Regions from separate parts of the Homo sapiens genome. Here all the other regions are linked to region 1. Evidence: fine-mapped expression QTL. A gene starts in region 1. Each other region holds a variant in brackets. All regions are shown on one strand. Distances are from middle to middle.

Region 1 (2,753 bases):
AGCTACTTGGCATCTGTCTTCTCAGTTAGAGAGAGTATGAGCTCAACAAGTTTTTCATCAGGGCCCCCATTCCCAGAAGGCCCCCCCAAAATCTGATGAGCCCCTTGTGCTAGGAGAGTGGGGAGAGGAGGGAGATCTGTCACATGCTGCAAGGGGCAAAGGTCACAGGTGAGGCGAAGGGGAGGGATGGGGACACCCTGGGGCCAGCCAGCGGTGAGCGCCCCAGGCTAAGACAAGGCTGACCCCACTGCCGAGAGAGGGCGGGCAGGGGGTGAGATTGAGGGCTGGGTTCATTTTATTGTATTTTGCCTCCAGCGTGGGGCCAGAGACGCTCTTTCCCCCGGGAGACAAAAGGCCTGCAGTTGTGGCGTCCTGCCCCGCTGGGAGGGCGTTTCGCCCCCAGGACTCGGTGTCCCGAGGTTGAGGCTACTGGTCACCCTGGCTTCAGAAAGCGAAGAATTCAGGAACCTCTGATCACCCCACCCTGACTCCTGATCATTCAGTTGGGGCGTCCCCTCAAACCCACCAGCAAGGAGCTCAGAGTTGGTGAGTTCAGAGCTGTATCAAGTCTTGACGGGCTCCCTCCCTCCCATTTCCCACCTCTTTGGGCCCCCAGATCCTCACACCAGCACCAACTCCCTGTAAACCCAACTACCTGCTGGAAAGGAGTTATAGGCCCGGCCTGGGGGCCTGAGGAGGACGGCGGCGGCTGGAGACGTCTGCACGGGGCGGAACTGGAAGGGGAGGAAGAAACCTGTGCCTAGCACTTGGCAGACCCACTTTGCCAAGCCTCGGAACCAGATACGGTTACTGGGGGCTTCTCAGAGCGGCAGGAAGGTAGAGTAAGAACCGGACACCGGGGCTCTGACATTACACAGAAAAGGTCAGAATTCCTCCCTTCAAGTCACCCTAGGCCGGTTCCCGGGGAGCCTCACTGGAGGAATTTCAGAGGGTGTAAGACGAGGGAGAAGATGAGAAATAGGGCGGACTCTGGCCCTCGGAGGCCAGAGAAAAGGCGAGACTCCAGAGAGGCGCCGGACCCGAGGCAGACATTCCCATACAGCCGGGACTCCGAGAGCAGCCGTGGGCGACCTGGGGGCCGGGGACTCGGCGGATCCGGCCCATTCATCAAAGGAAGGCACTGGGACAAAGTTGGCCCCCTCCCCTTCTCCCCCAGCCCCCAACTCGCCGGGATCGGCTCCCTCTCTTTTCACGGCGGTTCAAATTCTCCCCCAAAACGAGGTCGAGCCGGGGATTAGAAAAGAGGGAAAAAAATATTCGTTGGCGATTTCTTTTCGTTATTGGTCCTCCGCTCCCTTGCGCCCTGGCCCCCTTCCCTCCTCATGAATAAAAGAAAAGTCCGAACCTATCAGATCGCGCTCACTGCCTCCTCCTCCTCCTCCTCCTCCTCCTCCTCGTACTTCGGTGAACACTTTTGCACAACTTACCCAGCTGATCACTCGCGCCCCCTCGCTTTTCCATTTCTCTTTCCCCAACCCCGTCACCCCCTGTCTCCTCCGTCCAGCCCTGAAACCCGAGGAGGCTCCTTCTTCCGTCTGTCCCCGGGTCTCCTAGGGGACGGGGCTGTGAAAGCTGGTGTGGAGGGAGAAGCGAGTGTGGTCCGGAGAAAGAAGGCGTGGAGAAGAGGGAGGGAGCGAGAGCGAGAGAATAAATATATAAATAAATACGAGAACGAAATCCACTCCGCAGTCTCCGGGCTCGGAAACTTTGGCCCCGAGCGCCAGAGCGCCAGAGCGCGAGAGCGCGGCGCTCGCCACTCTGAGGCTGGCGGCCTCGATTCCGGCCGCGTTCCCCCGGCCCCCCTCCGCCGCGGGGCCTGGTCTCCGGGTTCTGCCAGGCGCATCAGCCCGCACAACTTCTGGCCGAGGCCAGCCGGCAGAGGCGGACTTGGGGTTGGAGTGTTTGTTTGTTTGAACTTCCTCGTCGTCGCCACCTTCCCTCCCCCCAACCTCCACCCCACCTCACCCCCCTCCCCAGCTTCTGGACGCGTTTGACTGCAGCCAGGGGTGGGGGGTGGGGGTAGGGAGTGTGTGTGGAGGGGAGGGAGAAGAGGTTAAAAAAAAGAAGACGAAGAAGACGGAAAGAAAGAGATCGCAGCAGGGGTGAAGGGAGCGGACGGGAAGCGATTTTTGCCGACTTTGGATTCGTCCCCGGCGTGCGCAAGAATGGCGGCCCTTCCCGGCACGGTACCGAGAATGATGCGGCCGGCTCCGGGGCAGAACTACCCCCGCACGGGATTCCCTTTGGAAGGTAAGAACGCCCAGGCTGGCCTCGCCGCGACTCCGCCGCCCGGAACTCGGGGTCCTTGGAGAGGCTGCGGTCTCCAGGGGACGGTGGCGGCGCCGGCGATAGCAGAGGGATCCCGTTCTCTTCTGGGTCCCAGTCCGGGCGCGGAACCCAGGGAGTTTCTGGGACCCATACTTGTCCGCTTCTGCGTGGGTTTCACTGCCCGGCGGCCTTCGTTTCGCAGGTCGCTAGCTGCCGGTCTTTACCCGCAGGGCTGAAATTCTGGTAGATTTGGACTCCTAGTAAATATCAGGTCCTGGTGAATTTCAGCTCTTTCCACTATTTCCAGACACTTCTTCCCTGACAGTTTCTCGGCTCTCCTGGCTCGCTGGCTGCCAGCTTTCTACTCTTGTTTTGAATTATTTTTTCCACCCCCGGGATTGGTCTTCCAGTCCTTTATTTCGAACCACCTACCATGGGTGATACTTTATATGCCTCAACTACCA
Region 2 (2,753 bases), 69 kb after region 1:
ACCTTCACCTATTATCTATATTGTTATTTACTTTTCAACGAAATCAAGTGTTTTAAAATAAAAATGCACAACACTCCCATAAAGGGAAGGCAATTGTTAAAATACACACACACACACACACACACACACACACTACACACAAAGGAAAACAAAACAACATGATTAAAGCCTTTCAGGAAAATGTCACCTGCAAACGCCTCCTCTCCCTGCATTCAGAAGGGAGATTGGCACAGGTTAGAAAGGCACTGAGGATGCATTAGCACCAAACTGAGACCCCTCTTCCCCCCTTCTCCATGCCCAGGAGGCCTGGGAGAGAAGTGGAATGGAATAACTTTCCCATCCTCATGTCCAGGTTATTGAATTCTGTTTCTCCAACAGGGAGCAGTGGCAGGAGGCCCACTGTTTGGGAAACACTGAATTAGTACAAAGACCTCCTCACACCCTTCCCGCAGAGCCTGGAAGCTCGGAGGCAAGGCCATTCCTTGCAGGGCTCCCTCCAGCATCCCTGCCACTCCAGGGTGCCCCGGGGAAACCCTCGGCGCCCTGTGGAAGTGGGGAGAAGCCAGGGCTTTGAATCCATCGGGAGCCAGTCGTTTTTCCTCCAGGCTTGGCTGCCTCCTCTCCCTTTCTCTGTGAAACCTCAACAGGTGAAAGCCGGCAGCTCTTGTTTATCCAGCCTGCAAGCTGAACGCTGCTTTTCCCACCCGGGAAGGATGGCTCTAGGGGTGCATAAGCGCCCTCCACCTGGCTGCATTCCCCTCCCCCATCTCAGCAGACACGGCCCAGAGATTTGGGGGTCTTGGGTGATCAGGTGCCAGGGGAGGTGGCGGCCTTCACCCCCCATCAGGATGGAACACCAACCAAGCCTTGTAGCCCCAGCCCCAGCAAAGGCACCCCAGTGCCAATCCTGCCTCCCCTTGTTCATTCATTCATTCGTCATTCACTCCTTCATTCATTCAACAAGTATTCCTTGAACACTTACTGAGCTCCAGGCATTGGGCAAGGAATGCATGGCCTCTGTCCCGTGGAGCCTGAGTCTGAGGGGGACATTAGGAGCAGCACAGCCAAGAAACAGATATATAGAATCATTGATCCTGTGGGGAAGCACACAGGTAGGAGGCCCACCTGACAGAAGGCAGAGAACCTACCTGAACCCACCTTAGATGCGGCAATTAAGGAGTAGGAGTAGGAGGAAGCATTTCAGCTGAGCTCTGAAGGCCAAAGAGCCAGCTGCAGGAAGAGTGTTCAGGGGAGAGGGAACAGCATGTGCAAAGCTGAAGGTGGAAAAGAGCCCCCTCAAGGCAGCCCCAGTGTGCACCCTCATTCTCCTCTTTCTCTGACCTGTCCCAGGAAACTTGCAAATCCAGATAAGTGGGCTCTAGAAAGCCAGACTG[A/AT]TTTTTTTTTTTTTTTGAGGCAGAGTCTCGCTTGTCGCCCAGGCTGGAGTGCAGTGGCGTGATCTCAGCTCACTGCAAGCTCTGCCTCCCGGGTTCACGCCATTCTCCTGCCTCAGCCTCCCGACTAGCTGGGACTACAGGCGCCCACCACCATGCCCGGCTAATTTTTTTGTATTTTTAGTAGAGACAGGGTTTCACCTTATTAGCCAGGATGGTCTCAATCTCCTGACCTCGTGATCCGCCCGCCTCGGCCTCCCAAAGTGCTGGGATTACAGGTGTGAGCCGCTGCGCCCGGCCAGACTGATTTTAAGTTTGAACCTCAGCTCCAACACAGACTAGCTGTGTGGACTTGGGCAAGCAACTTGACCTCTGTGAGCCTTGGTTTCCCCTTCTGTAAAATGGGAATAGGAGAATACGTCTCATGGGTCTATGTATGGATTGATACGTGAAGTGCCAGCACAGGAAGGGGAGACAAAAATGTTGGGTTATTATCCCACTAATGTTTGATAAATCCGTGTGTGTGTGTGTGTGTGTGTGTGTGTGTGTGTGTGTGTTTCCTATTTCAAGGAGGCCCAGGGTGTGTAAGCAAAGTAGGGCCTCAGTCTCCAGAGAAAGAACCCGGCTTGCACATCTGGGTCTGAAGTGCAGGTCTCATTCAGGTGGGTTGCAGATGCGTGGCTTCCTCCTGGGGGGCTTCCTGGAGGAGGTGGTCAAGCAGGGCACCAGCATCCCTCCAGGAAGGAGCAGCTGCAGAGGAAAGAGCACTGGCCTGAGAGCCACACAGGACTGGCTGGACCACTGACTCAACCTGGCCCATGGACAAGTCACCCACTTTCTTTGGGTCTTGGTTTCCTCATCTGTAAAATGGGGATAATATAGAACCCCCTCACTGGTGGTTGTGAGGGCAGAATGGGGTCATACCTATGAAATCACTCTGCAAAGCGTCCTGTGCTGCACAATGCCGGGGCCTGCAGGAGGATGCTGGCTGGATCAGAGGGTGATGGCTTGGGCAACTGGGTCTACATGTGTTGCAGCTCTCTGCCAGGAACCTGGCCGAGGGGTCTCCATTCTCTGCTCTCCACCTCCCAGGTCTGGTTCAGTAACCGCCGCGCCCGTTGGCGTAAGCAGGCAGGAGCCAACCAGCTGGCGGCGTTCAACCACCTTCTGCCAGGAGGCTTCCCACCCACCGGCATGCCCACGCTGCCCCCCTACCAGCTGCCGGACTCCACCTACCCCACCACCACCATCTCCCAAGGTGAGTGTCTTGGCCCCGTCCTGCCATCTCAGTGGTGCCCCTTCCCTTCTTTCTTTACTTTCACTTACAAAGGCTCTTCTTTTTTTTATGACCATTTCTTACTT
Region 3 (2,753 bases), 73 kb after region 1:
AAGGTGAGCCTTGTAGGGGAAGAAGGGTTCCCTCCCCCTACCTCACCGGAACTTGCTCTCATTCTGTCACCCCAGAAGCCCTGTCCCAGCACACACCAGGAATACCACTACTTGATATTGGCCTCATGGGCTGGGCGCAGTGGCTCACAACTGCAATCCCAGCACTTTGGGAGGCTGAGGCGGGCGGATCTCTTGAGGCCAGGAGTTGGAGACCAGCCTGGCCAACATGTGAAACTCCATCTCTACTAAAAATACAAAAAAAAAAAATTATCTGGGCATGGTGGCGTGCATCTGTAATCCCAGCTACTCAGGAGGCTGAGGCAGGGGAATCGCTTGAACCCGGGAGGCGGAGGTTGCACGGAGCCCAGATCGCGCCACTGCACTCCAGCCTGGGCGACAGAGTGAGACTCCATCTCAAAAAAAAAATTAAATTTTAAAAAAGATAGCTACCTCATAAAGCCTCCTCTTAAATGACTGGCAGGCTGGAGTTCTGGAGGCCAAGGAAAGAGTCAAAGAGCCCCCTCCAGCACCACTGTGACTTGGTAAGATAAATTGAACCAGTGTTGAGGGTCCCAGCCTCTGCAAAGCTGCACAGAAGGGCCCAGAGAGCGCAGAATAACAGCCTAGCAGCAAAGAACAGAGATGGCTCCAGAGTTAGGCCATTCAAATCCTGGTCCCATCACTCACTAGCCTGGTCATCTTGTGTGAGTGCCCCAAGCCCACCAAGCCTTGGTTTCTTCATCTGTAAAATGGGATTTACAGTCTTGCTTCATACCCTTAGGCAGCGTTTGTAAAAGCACCTGGCAAGTGGTTGACGCTCACAAAACAAAACAGACTGGGTAGATTAACAGAGTCCCCATCAAGGTCTGGTTTTCAGCCCAGCTGACATTTATTGAGCACCTACTGTGTGCCAAGCACTGAGGAACAGTGGCTGGTGTGCACCTGTCTAGGGGTTGTCTAGAATGTTGGGTTGTCAGTCAAGACCTGGCCAGTGCCTACTGCCCTGCCCAGGAGCCAACTTGTCTCATCCCAGGTAGCATGAGAGGGTGGTCCCTTCCCTCCAAGGAAT[G/A]GAGACCGGGAGGAGGAGTCTCTTGGCTTGCCTTCTGCTCTCAGAGGCCCAGCGTCCAGGATGAGGCCACTTGCTTAGGACCTCTCTTGGGTCTCTCTACAGATGGGGGCAGCACTGTGCACCGGCCTCAGCCCCTGCCACCGTCCACCATGCACCAGGGCGGGCTGGCTGCAGCGGCTGCAGCCGCCGACACCAGCTCTGCCTACGGAGCCCGCCACAGCTTCTCCAGCTACTCTGACAGCTTCATGAATCCGGCGGCGCCCTCCAACCACATGAACCCGGTCAGCAACGGCCTGTCTCCTCAGGTAGGTGGTCTCAGCCCAGCACCCAGGATCCCACCGCCACGAAAGTCAGACATCTGCAGACAGCACGTGGGTGGAAGCCTTGCGCTCTTTCCTGTAGCAGGCTGACTGCGGTTGGGGTTTTTGTTCTAGAATCAGGAATCCTCCCTGGACTCTGTCCTGTGCTCTTGGCTTTTCACCAGGAGTGACCAATTCCTGAAAGGCAGGACCATGTCCTATTGGTGGAGAGAATTGTGGATGGGGTTCTGGGCCGGTAACTCTACCCTGATTGGTCAATGGAATTCTGTTTGCTCCTGTGTGATTGGTTAAGTCATTCATTGCCTCGGGGTGCTGTTAGAAGTCACAGGACCTGCTTTGGATGAAGTCAGAGAGATAATGTGGGCGCTGATGGTGGTTATTGGTGAGTTTGGGGAACAGGACTTGATAATGCCGGAAGTCCCAATGAACTTGAGGAACTGATGGGCTCATTTTTTTGTAGCTTCAGCAGGCTCCCAAATATCCGTGGGGGAAGGGATGAAGTGCCCCCTGCCACATGTCTGTGGTGAGAATCCACTGCACATGATCCAAACTGATCTGAAGAGCCATAGTGTGGCAGAACAGTGAAGCCTGTGGAATGGGTCTAAATCCCAGCTCTACTGCTCAGGGGTCTCTGAGGCAAGTCAGCATCTGTGAGCCTCAGTTTATCCCCTATTAAACAAAGAGAGTCTGTAACTAACGTCTCAACAAGAGGTGCTTGCCACATTCAATATGCTAACAGGTCAGAGCACCTAGCCCAGAGCCTGGCACGAAATCAGTGCCAAGTAAATATTAGTTCTCTGGCCCTCCCAGTGTCAGGACAATGTAATTAATATGGGAAACCCATTACCTAAAAGGAGAATAGAAAGAATTCAAAGAAGGCCAGCAAGCTACATCCTGCGGGCCACATCTGTCCAGCTCCCTGTTTTTTGTAAATAAAGTTTTATTGGAATACAGCCATGTCCATTTATGTATGGTGGCTTTTTTGCCACCACAGCAGAATTGAGTAGTTTTAAAAGAGATCATATAAGGCCGAGCGTGGTGGCTCACACCTGTAATCCCAGCACTTTGGGAGGCCGAGGCGGGTGGATCACCTGAGGTCAAGAGTTCGAGACCAGCCTGGCCAGTACGGTGAAACTTTGTCTCTACAGCAATACAAAAATTAGCCAGGCATGATGGCAGGTGCCTGTAATTTCAGCTACTTGGGAGGCTGAGGCGAGAGAATCGCTTGAACCTGGGAGACAGAGGTTGCAGTGAGCCAAGATTGCACCATTGCACTCCAGCCTGGGTGACAGAGTGAGACTCCATCTCAAAAAGATAAATAAATAAATAAAAAGAGAGACCATGTGGTCCACAAAGCCTAAAAT

Alleles and levels. Alleles are on the strand shown, and positions count from the first base shown. SD is a standard deviation of normalised expression in the study named.
For the expression in prefrontal cortex of the gene that starts at base 1,429 in region 1, AT is the low allele of the variant in region 2 and A is the other (small effect, 0.36 SD a copy in CommonMind).
For the expression in prefrontal cortex of the gene that starts at base 1,429 in region 1, A is the high allele of the variant in region 3 and G is the other (moderate effect, 0.42 SD a copy in BrainSeq).

The links. PIP is the estimated chance that this variant, and not a neighbour inherited with it, causes the effect.
Region 2: its variant is fine-mapped to the expression of PAX7 in prefrontal cortex (CommonMind, PIP 0.95).
Region 3: its variant is fine-mapped to the expression of PAX7 in prefrontal cortex (BrainSeq, PIP 0.95).

Annotation. Positions count from the first base shown.
Region 1 is chr1:18,629,418-18,632,170 of GRCh38, forward strand. PAX7 (paired box 7) reads left to right here and starts at 1,429. Exons shown (of 9, transcript NM_001135254.2): 1 at 1,429-2,271. The coding sequence starts at 2,187. RefSeq lists promoters at 1,113-1,898, 1,302-2,212, 1,936-2,212 and an enhancer at 2,752-2,753.
Region 2 is chr1:18,698,170-18,700,922 of GRCh38, forward strand. PAX7 (paired box 7) reads left to right here. Exons shown (of 9, transcript NM_001135254.2): 6 at 2,484-2,649. Among named protein-coding and RNA genes, the nearest start is that of PAX7, 69 kb to the left of the region's middle. The variant A/AT (reference allele first, on the strand shown) is at 1,395.
Region 3 is chr1:18,701,923-18,704,675 of GRCh38, forward strand. It overlaps PAX7 (paired box 7), which reads left to right. Exons shown (of 9, transcript NM_001135254.2): 7 at 1,172-1,374. Among named protein-coding and RNA genes, the nearest start is that of PAX7, 72 kb to the left of the region's middle. The variant G/A (reference allele first, on the strand shown) is at 1,070.